Regions from separate parts of the Homo sapiens genome. Here region 1 is linked to region 2. Evidence: fine-mapped expression QTL. A gene starts in region 2. The other region holds a variant in brackets. All regions are shown on one strand. Distances are between the middles of the regions.

Region 1 (5,387 bases), 150 kb after region 2:
CTGAGTGAGGTTGTTAGTTGCATGTAAAGTACATGAGCTAGGACTTGAAATCTGTTGTAATACTTGAAATGAAGTTTTAAAATTTTCTTTTAAGTTACATTTCAGAGAGTTGAAATTGACTCACGAGTTGCCTTATAAGTCACATAAGACTTCCGAGTAAAGTCAAGGGTTATAGTACATACAGTTCAACTTTTTAGAAGTTTAGCTTCTGATACTGTCTTAGTATTCACAGATGGCTGCTAAATGTCACTATTTGTAGATCTACTTTGTCAGAAAAAAAAATGATAGGTGCCTTATAAAGCAACACAACAATATCTGGATATGAGTGTGTTTAAAAGGCATGTTATGGAATGGGATTACATATTGTTTGTCACATATAATGAACTGAAGTAGTGAAGTCAGCCGATTTTATTTTATCAAAAGGAAGTTAACTCATTGCCCATCATTGTTATCTTCAAAGTTTTTAAAAAAGAATTATGATTTCTCTTTAGATTCCTTATTTGATTATTAAGTAACTCTGGCATTATGCTGATAACCATTTTGGTCTCTAATTCTGTGTCTAATCTTGTGAATGTTTATTTAGACTATAAAGACTAACAATGGTCTAATTTAACTATATTATTTTGTAGTTATGTCTTTTGGCAAGGATTCAGTACTATATAGGACTTGGATTTTTCCATTCTGGATATTTTTCAGTTAACTTAAATTTTTTTTTTTCTAGGTTAAAAAATGGCCATACTTTAGTAACTAATCAGCCTAATGCTTTGCTTATGAAAACTTTTACCATCATTATTTTTTTCATTTTGGATTGAGAAAATGAATCCAGATATAGAAGAAAGTGCAGGATGTTGGATAAAAGTGGCTCTTAAACAGTGGAACATCCAATAACTAATTTGCAAGAAGTTTTAAAGAAATAAAATTGTTATGCTTCGATTTTGGTATGGTATTGACTCTTTAGCACATAGGTAGCCCTCAAAAAAATCATCCAGTTTTCTAAATTATGGAAATTTTGTGGAAGACGTTGACCTGGATTTTGAGCCTCATCATGGCTTCATCGGAATTTCATAGTGACCACAGGCTTTCATACAGTTCTCAAGGTAGGATTCTTGCTTTTGAAACTGACAAAAAATATTGCTATTAATTGGACAAGAAAAGATTCTGCATATTTAGTTTGGGTGGATAGTTTTTTTTGGGATATGTAGTGATAGGAATAGAGGCCTACTGTGTCAATTCGGTATTAGTTTCATAAATGTTAAGGGCTATGCGTCGTTTAACTTGTCCTACTAGTATTTAACATCCCGTGGATTTTAGAGTTGACTGGTCTTTCTTGGAAAATGATAGACCCCAGGCCTTGTTCTTCTGAAACTTAAACTTTAATAAGCTTGTTCATTACTAGAGTTTATGGGCAAGGACATGTTCAAAGAGAATCCAAACATTTATGCTGTGGAAGAAGAAACCAGATAAATTATGATACAGGACCCTTTTAATATGGACCCTTTGTGAAAAAATACTTTTGCAAACCTGAGAGTTCTGATCTAAAGACTAGAATCTGAGTGTAAGAATGAGAACTGTAAGAAGTGCAACTTTTCACATTCTAATCTTTATAATTTTAATCTATAGAATTGAGCTTTATATCGTAGAAATGATCTTAACAAAGCAGGCCCAGGAGTAAATGTCATTTTGTTTTCCATGGACCAGTCCAGTCCTTATAGAATTATTGAGAGGCATACCTTTTGGATTTCCCTCCCATGAATACATAGTAATAGATAATTTTTTGGTGCCGATGAACCAGATTTTCAAGACTATTACAGATTGATGTATGTATCTAGAAATCCATGTTAAAAAGTGTGGCTGTCAAAGTAAATCAATGAAGCCATGACATTTAGTATGAACTCTAATTATTTATAAGAAGTGAAATAAACACTGTCTTTGAATTTATTTACATTTGGTTATGGTTTTATAGGAGTTTATATTAGTGTGTAAACTCCATGTATAGACACTGAGGCAAATAAGCAGACATTTGGTTTACCTTAGTGGTAAATCTAGCTGAAAGAAGGTACAGCTAAGAAGGTAGATGGAAAATGTTTAGTACATCTAAATGAGGAAAATATGTTCCTCATTTAGTTCTCTGAAATTTTAGTCAAGCTGTTTTTAAAATAGCTTTATTGAGATATTACTACACATACCATAGAATTCACCCATTTAAGGTATAAAATTCAGTGGTTTTTAGTATTTTCGGCATTGTACAACCATCACAATAACCTATTTTATTTTATTTCATCTTATTTTTTGGCACTAGTGTCATCGCCAACATAATCAATTTTAGAACATTTTCATCACTCCAAAAAGAAGCCTATACTTCTTAGTGGTCACTTCCAAATTCCCTCCAAACCAGCCTTCACCTCCAGCTGTAGGCAACTAAACCTTCTGTCTGTAGAGATTTCCCTATTCTGGATATTTCATATAAATGCAATGATATGTGGCATATTGTGACTTGCTCTTTTACTTAATGTTTTAAATGTTAGATAATGAACTTTGATTATGAAGACAGTTGTTCTGAAGGTTCATTCATGTCATAGCATGTATCACTACTGCATTCCTTGTTATTGTAAAATAATATTGCATTGTGTGGATATACTACATTTTGTTTGTCTATTCATCAATTGATGGAAATTTGGTTTAATTCCCCTTTTTGAGTATGATGAATATTGCTGAGCATTCACATCTAAATTTTTATGTGAATGTGTGTTTTCATTTCTATTGTGTATATACCTGAGAGTAGGATTGCTGGATCATATGGTTAACTCCATGTTTAAAATTTTGAGGAATTGTCAGACTGTTTCTCAAAGTGGTTACAGCATTTTACATTCCCATTGACGTGTTTTTGTTTTTGTTTTTCGTTTTGTTTTTTTTTTTGAGACGGAGTCTTGCTCTGTCGCCCAGGCTGGAGTGCAGTGGCGCAATCTCGGCTCACTGCAACCACCACCTCCCAGGTTCAAGTGATTCTCCTGCCTCAGCATCCAGAGTAGCTGAGACTACAGGCGTGTGCCGCAACGCCCGGATAATTTTTTTGTATTTTTAGTAGAGGCGGGGTTTCACCGTGTGATGATTTCTTAAAAAATAATAATTTCTACAAGGCTATAGAGATTCTTTTTTGGATAACTTTCAAAAACAGATTCTGAGCTAAACTCTTTTCTTTTACATATGTGTGCTTCTCATTATTTTTTATTTCAAAGTAAAATTTTAATATTTCTTGTAGAATTTAGCTCTTAGGATCCATGTTTTAAAAATTAAAAAAGTAAAATAGTCCTTCACAAGTAATATTAAAATGATGGCAACTTAATCTTCAGATTTTAAACTTTTATTCTTTCATTTTTGTTTAAT[A/G]TAACTTTTTTTGTACATACCTCACATATAATGATTCATAGTTTTAATTGACATAGTTGTTGTTTATATTGCTGCTTCTTTGTTCCGTTAAATTTTCTTTTCTTCCATGTGTTTTTTTTCTGGATTCTCTGCCTTGTGATTACAAAGAGGAATTCCTGACTTATCTTGAACACTACCAGCTAACTATTCCAATAAGGGTTGATCAAAATGGAGCATTTCTCAGCTTTACTGTGAAAAATGATAAACACTCAAGGAGAAGACGGAGTATGGACCCTATTGATCCACAGCAGGCAGTATCTAAGTTATTTTTTAAACTTTCAGCCTATGGCAAGCACTTTCATCTAAACTTGACTCTCAACACAGATTTTGTGTCCAAACATTTTACAGTAGAATATTGGGGGAAAGATGGACCCCAGTGGAAACATGATTTTTTAGACAACTGTCATTACACAGGATATTTGCAAGATCAACGTAGTACAACTAAAGTGGCTTTAAGCAACTGTGTTGGGTTGGTAAGTAGATGCTATAATTTTAAACTTCTGATGGGAAAATAAGAATTTTGCAATGTAAATGTCTTTCCTCAGATTAAAAAAAAAATATATATATATATAGGTAGTTTAAGTAGGAAGGTAATAGTTTAAAATTTTTTGCTATTTCTGCTGCCTTTGATTTTGATTTTCTTTTTAATAATGTATTGACTTTTCAAAGGGCAGCTTTTAAAACTCTATTATTAGAAGAGGAATGAACAAAACTTCAGATTTCCCTTTAGACTTATGTTTTTCTGTTCAAATAAGATATCTTTTATGCATAAACAAAACTCAGTCATTTTTGAAGAATTTTAGGGTATGTTTGTATGTATATGTGTATTATGGCAGGAAGCCACAACACTGACATTCTTTTTATAATATCTTTCTTTGGTAGGTAACATATCTTAAAATTTCTTATGACCTACTTACAGTTATAAGTTCTCGAAGTAAAATCTTTTATACAGTGTCTATGAGATAATTTTTTATACATTTATATGAAGATTGATATAAATCTTATTTTAGTTAGAAAATGGGTTCTAGGCTGGGTGAGGTGGCTCATGTCTGTAATCCCAGTGTTTTAGGAGGCCGTGATGGGAGGATTACCTGAGGCTAGGAGATCAAGACCAGCCTGGGCAGCATGGCGAGGCACCCATTTCTAAAAATATATTTTTAAGAAAGAATGGAAAAAAGAAAATGGGTTCAAGACTACAGGGTTTATCCTGGGCATTTGAATCCATTCTAGTCTAATGGTAAATACACAGTTCAAAGTTGCACATAGTAATAATTGCAAAACAAAGCAAATTTCCATGCTTTCTCTTCTGTGTTTACCCTGTTCAGGCTAATGTAGCTGTTCCATTAAAGCTGTATCTGTGAAAAGGGTAAAAACATTTTGATGCTCAAGGAACATTTTCAGAAACTTTTTCTTTTTTATTATAACATACCCATATTCTTATTTCTGTTTCAATATAAAATAACTATAATTCGAGTTGGGTTTAAATAAGTTTTAAATTTGAAAGGACTATCAAGAACTACACAATGGAGGAAAACATTTCACTGTAGATGTATATAGGAATGTGCTCCAATTGTCTACTTTCTATCACTGTTAAGTAAAATGAACCAAAATATTTACTTAGCTTGTAAGATTTAGGCTTAATTTCTACAAATAGACAAATTGAGTATACTCATTACTAGTTTCTCTATAAGCAGTGTTAGGACTTTCTCTATAAAACAGATTTATTTTTTTAAATAAAATTATCCAAAATGTGTTCTAAAACTTTTCATATGTTAAAATGGCACACTATTCATTATCATAGAAAAATACTATTCCTAGTTATTGACTAGGTTATTTATGTTTGGCATTAACATTAATTATGCCATTGCTAGTTTTAACAGGGTGATGAAATGAGCACATTCAAGAACAAAACTAATTCCATTGTGGGATTTGAGAGAAGAGTGATTGTAGATATGAAGATAATT
Region 2 (5,387 bases):
AGTCTTTGTTGCCCAGGTTAGAGTGCAGTGGCACAATCTCGGCTTACAGCAACCTTCGCCTCCCAGGGTCAAGTGATTCTTGTGCCTCAGCCTCCTGAGTAGCTGGGACCACTGGTGCACACCATCACGCCTGGCTAATTTTTGTATTTTCAGTAGAGACGGGGTTTCATAATGTTGGCTAGGCTGGTCTCGAACTCCTGATCTCAAGTGATCAGCCACCTCACCCAACCAAGAATAACAAGATATTATCTTTAACATTTTACATATTAAAAGATAAAGTGAACTTAAATGACCACTTAAATTAATACATTTGGCATTCAGCATCAGCACATTGAAATGTGTGAAAATTGTTGATTAACTAGAACAATGGGTTAACTATAAGATGGTACTAAAGAGGTTTAATAAAGTTGAAACTATCAGTCAATTTTGAAGCACTTGTCCGTTTAGGCTGCTTATTGTTCTTTTTTTTTTTTTTTTTTTTTTTTTTGAGACAGGGTCTCACTCTGTCACCCAGGCTGGAGTGCAGTGGCGCAATCTCAGCTCACTGCAGCCTCTGCCTCCCAGGTTCAAGCGGTTCTCCTGCCTCAGTCTCCCGAGTAGCTGGGATTACACCACCACACCTGGCTAATTTTTGTATTTTTGGTATAGACGGGTTTTCGCCATGTTGGCCAGGCTGGTGTCAACTCCTGATCTCAAGTGATCTGCCAGCCTCGGCCTCCCAAAGTGCTATTACAGGCGTGAGCCACCACGCCTGGCTTAGGCTGCTTAAATATTCTTTCTTAGGTATCCTTGGTTTTGGAAAAAAAAGAATAACAGAAAACTAAAAATTCCCAGTGGCAGTCTCTGTATCACTGGAATTTAACTTTTTGTTTGTTTGTTTTTTGAGATGGAGTCTCGCTCTGTTGCCTAGGATGGCGTGCAGTGGCGTGATCTCGGATCACTGCAAGCTCCGCCTCCCGGGTTCACGCCATTCTCCTGCCTCAGCCTCCTGAGTAACTGGGACTACAGGCGCCCGCCACCACGCCTGGCTAACTTTTTGTATTTTTATAGAGACGGGGTTTCACTATGTTAGCCAGGATGGTCTTGATCTCTTGACCTTGTGATCACCCGCCTTGGCCTCCCAAACTGCTGGGATTACAGGGGTGAGCCACCACGCGCGGCTGCAATTTAACTGTTTTTAATAGCTTCTAATTTGTATAAATCACACGTAGCAGTTAATAGAACTGTTCCAAATTCCCATCGGAGTAGCTGGTAGAGGAATTATCTCTGAGAATGCTGCTTCATTCTTTAGGAGGCAACACGGACTCTTGGAAAGAGAGGCAGGCCTTGCGTTGAAACACTGCCTCAATCACTAGCTATGTGATCTTGGAAAAGTTACTTAAACTCTGAGAATTAATATTTACTCCACATACTTGAAGTGAGATTGTGAGATAAAGAACACGACAATTAGTTGCTTTTCTTCTTTTCCCTCTTCTCCACGAGTAACAATCCATTTTAATCTCCATTTTAGTCTAGATCATTTGCTCAGGTTAAGCTTACAGGTCCCATCACTGTATCACTAAACATTACAAAGTTCCACAGTAAGAGACAATCTCGCTAACACAGGCATCATTATATGAGACTGATGAGCTTCTAGAAAGTCTGATGACTACATCATAATGGGAAGGATAAGGCGTTCCTCAAAATGGATGCCATAAGTAAAGTAAGCGCAATTCAATTGAACCCGAATGTTTATTGAGCATTTCCTCAGCTCATTCAAGAAGTCATTGTTAACCATATATTAAGGCATCCAAGAAACAAAAAGCGCATTTGTTGTAGTAAAAAACAAATAAAATAAAGCTGAAAAGATTTCAAATAAAAGGTTTCCAGAAAATAGGCATTAAAAAAATTGTCCTAAAAAAAAAAGTGCTGCTGTTTTTTCCTAAATAATGATCTAATTAAATCACCAAACTTACTCAAAATGGCTGTGTACAAAAAATGAGAGTTGACATTAGATCTCGGACATATTTCCCACATACACAGTGATTTGAAGTAAACTGCAGTTTGTTTTGAATAAATCTAAGTTATATGTTGTATTACTATGTATTGCTAAATTCTCTGCACTACTGTCATGCAATACTAATTTTACAGGGGAAGCTGAAGCCTGATTAACTTCGTCAGTGCCACAGGAAGAAACAAGAGACAGAAGGAAAAAGCACTTTGGATGCCCGCTGTAATTCACAGAGATCTCCACGGTAGGAGCGGGACGTCAGCTTCTGCGGCTAAAATCTCGTGACTGAAGCAGCACAGATCAGAAAGAACGATTTACCAGGTATCTATTTCGTTCTAGAAAGGGGCCCATAAACCTAAAAAGCATCCAGGAGAAATCGCTTCCTCCCGCTTGGCGGCAAAGGACAGAGCAGGAGGGCGAGCACTGAGTGTTTAAGAAGGATGAGGCCTACATGGCAAAGGCTTCGATAAGTAGGGAATGCAAGGAAACAGAAAAGGGGGAATCAGGTTCGCAAAAGTTTACCTTTTAGCGCCAGCAGGTGCTCCTGTTTAGGGGGATTCACTTCCATTTTGACCGGCACTTTTGACCCACAGCCTACGGGGGCTGGACAGGTTCAACTTGCCCCGGAAGGAAACGGAAAACCTCGCGTTTGGCAAAACCAAAAGTCAAACGCACTCTCAACCTCTCTCTGGTGGTGGTACCTTAAATTCTCCTACTGTGTCCTTTACAAACTGGCTTCTTTTCAACAAGTCCATTTCTTCTATCTTAGAAACGTAGGCATAAAATACTTTGTTTTCCATCTGCAATCACACATCGCGACTGCAGGAAAAGAAACCACCCCTAGGTAACAATACGCGGCCTCCCAAAGGCCAACGTTGCCGGAGTTTTTTTTTTAAAAAAAAAAAAAAAAAAAAAAAAGAGAGAGAGAGAGAGTGGCATGCTGGGATTTGTAGTTTATACAAAAACCGCGTTGCATGCAGGGAGATGCCCGTACCCCCTCACCGCCCTCAGTTCACGCCCTGGCTGGTTTGGATTCGAGAGGAAAAATCATTAAAGGATCTGGAGTTTTCACCCCAAAACTTTAATCGTTTTGTCCCTTCTTTTTTTTTCTTGTCTTTCCTCCAGCAGCTGCAGACTACATAATGAAAAATAACAAAAGTGCCCATGCGCGAGGCTGTGCAACTAACCACCCGACGATTGCGGGGAGGAGGAGTAAGAGTCGGCTAAGCGGCGCCCAGTGTCCTACTGCGCCTGTGCGCCGGTGGCGTGCGCAGAGGCCTCTGGGTAGGTGGCTCAACCCCGCCTCTCAGTTGAGGACTCTGAAGGCTGTTTCTGTGGCGCTTCCCCTGCGAGGATGGCTACCCTGGTTGTAAACAAGCTCGGAGCGGGAGTAGACAGTGGCCGGCAGGGCAGCCGGGGGACAGCTGTAGTGAAGGTGAGGGACCTTGCGTGCTCTATTCTCCACCATCGGCCTCCCTTCGGTTCATCCTGGAGACCTGGCGGCATCGCCGCGGCCCAGGCTTCGATAGGTGGGATGCGCGGCCTCTGGGCCCCTTTTGGCATTACAAGTCTCGTCCTGTCCTCTGCATCCTTTCTCTCCTATGGCCTGAAATTGCCTGGTCTTCTGCTCATGACATGTCATCATCGGGACATTTGTGAAAAGGAGCTTGCGGGCCAGTGGCAGTGACCTAGACCGGTCTTTTCTCCAGGTCCTCTGCTTTTAGTTAAACTCAACAGACATTAATTAGCTTAGTATTATAAATTGAGTCATCATCATCGTAACTACGTACTAAGTTAGGTGTTTTAGCTCGTTAATATCTACTTATGAAGTAGATGTGAATTCCCATTTTACAGGGAGGAAACCCAGGTTTAGGTAAACAGTGTGTGGCAGAGCCCCGGGTTGACCGGCTTTAAAGTCTGTACTTTTCGCTCTTGTACTGCGTCTGTAATCAGACATCTGTTATTGGGTGAGCTGCCCCCTCCCCTGTTAGTAGTACAGTCTATTAACTCTTTGCACAAGTCTGCAGCATCGTCATAGCTGGGCATTAACGATAGAGTTTATGAATTTTCTTATGCTTGAAGTTTGAGATTCTACCATGTATACATGCTCCAGAATCAATTTGCTAAAAAATCATTTGAAATATGTGGCACTCATTTTTCCCTTCCACTGTTGTGCACGGAAAGATATGGAGGGGAGAACTGATCCCATTGGTTTATAGAGTAACCTTCAGGAGCATCTCTAATCTAAGAGATTGATAATTCTCATTCCTGGCTACATATTAGGATCACTGAGGAGTTTTAGTACACTACTGATGCACTCCTCCTCCAGTTCTGATGAGGTTGACATCAGTATATTTTAGGAATTACCAGAAGTTATTTTAATGTGCAACCAGGGTTATGAATTACTGATCAAGGTAATATATGAAGTTTTTTTCACATCTTGAAAAGTAGACACCTATGATTATTCAGGTAATGTTGGTTTTATATGACAGCAAATGAGACATTTCTTCCCACAATTTAGTATCAGTGAATATTGGTGGTTGTTGATTCAGATGACCTTTAGGTACTAATGAAGTTATTCTACAGGTACACGGCATATCTGATATGCAAAGGAGCCCTCATTATTAGGCATGTTGTGTGACTGAGATTTTATTTATTGAATTGTGCTTTTGCTAAGTAGAGAATACTTGAAGAGCAGTTTGTGAATTAACTTGAAGTTTAAGTTTTATTTCATAATTGGAATGGGTATCATTGCAGTATCTATTTTTTTGTTACCCTGTTTGCCTTACAGTCTCAAAAGTGTACCAAAGCCTGATGTAACTCCAGTTTCTTACAGCACAGAATTTGATACATTGGAGGCTCACCTTGTTCATTTTCATCTTAACATGTAAAATATTCCTGAACTGTGCAATGAAATAGTCCTTTCTGACAAAATCTTCATGCCATAATTTGTAGTAGGTATAGTAGCATAAACTAAAAAAATCTCACTGTCATTTCTATAGATGAAAGCAAGAAGTATTTATTGGAAGGTAAAAGTTGAAGTATATAATGCTAATACTGTGTAAAATGGCCTTTTGCTTGTGAACAAGTTGATAATGACATGGCTTTTATCATTAGAGAAAACAGTAACATAAAAATCTGATATTGTGGCTAGGCGCGGTGGCACACGCCTGTAAAGCACAAAGTGCCTGGGAAGCACTTTGGGAGGCCAAAGTGGGCGGATCACTTGAGGTCAGGAGTTTGAGACTAGCCTGGCCAACATGGCGAAACCCCGTCTCTACTAATAATACAAAACGTAGCCAGGCATTGTGGTGTGGGCCTGTTAATCCCAGTTACTCAGGAGGCTGAGGTAGGAGAATCACTTGAACCCAGGAGGCGGAGGTTGCAGTGAGCTGAG

Which allele goes with the higher level. Positions count from the first base shown, and alleles are read on the strand shown. Sizes are in standard deviations (SD) of each study's normalised expression.
With allele G in place of A in region 1, the expression in unexposed skin of the gene that starts at base 2,592 in region 2 is lower (moderate effect, 0.67 SD a copy in GTEx).

What was found. PIP is the estimated chance that this variant, and not a neighbour inherited with it, causes the effect.
Region 1: its variant is fine-mapped to the expression of TRAPPC13 in unexposed skin (GTEx, PIP 0.97).

What each region holds. Positions count from the first base shown.
Region 1 is chr5:65,469,287-65,474,673 of GRCh38, reverse strand. It overlaps ADAMTS6 (ADAM metallopeptidase with thrombospondin type 1 motif 6), which reads left to right. Exons shown (of 25, transcript NM_197941.4): 2 at 722-1,097; 3 at 3,532-3,896. The coding sequence starts at 1,001. Among named protein-coding and RNA genes, the nearest start is that of ADAMTS6, 9.9 kb to the left of the region's middle. The variant A/G (reference allele first, on the strand shown) is at 3,385.
Region 2 is chr5:65,622,232-65,627,618 of GRCh38, reverse strand. It overlaps TRAPPC13 (trafficking protein particle complex subunit 13), which reads right to left and starts at 2,592. Exons shown (of 13, transcript NM_024941.4): 1 at 2,513-2,592. The coding sequence starts at 2,558. TRIM23 (tripartite motif containing 23) reads left to right here and starts at 3,286. Exons shown (of 11, transcript NM_001656.4): 1 at 3,286-3,425. The coding sequence starts at 3,345. SHLD3 (shieldin complex subunit 3) reads right to left here and starts at 2,592. Exons shown (of 2, transcript NM_001365341.2): 1 at 2,513-2,592. RefSeq lists enhancers at 3,077-3,156, 3,287-3,616.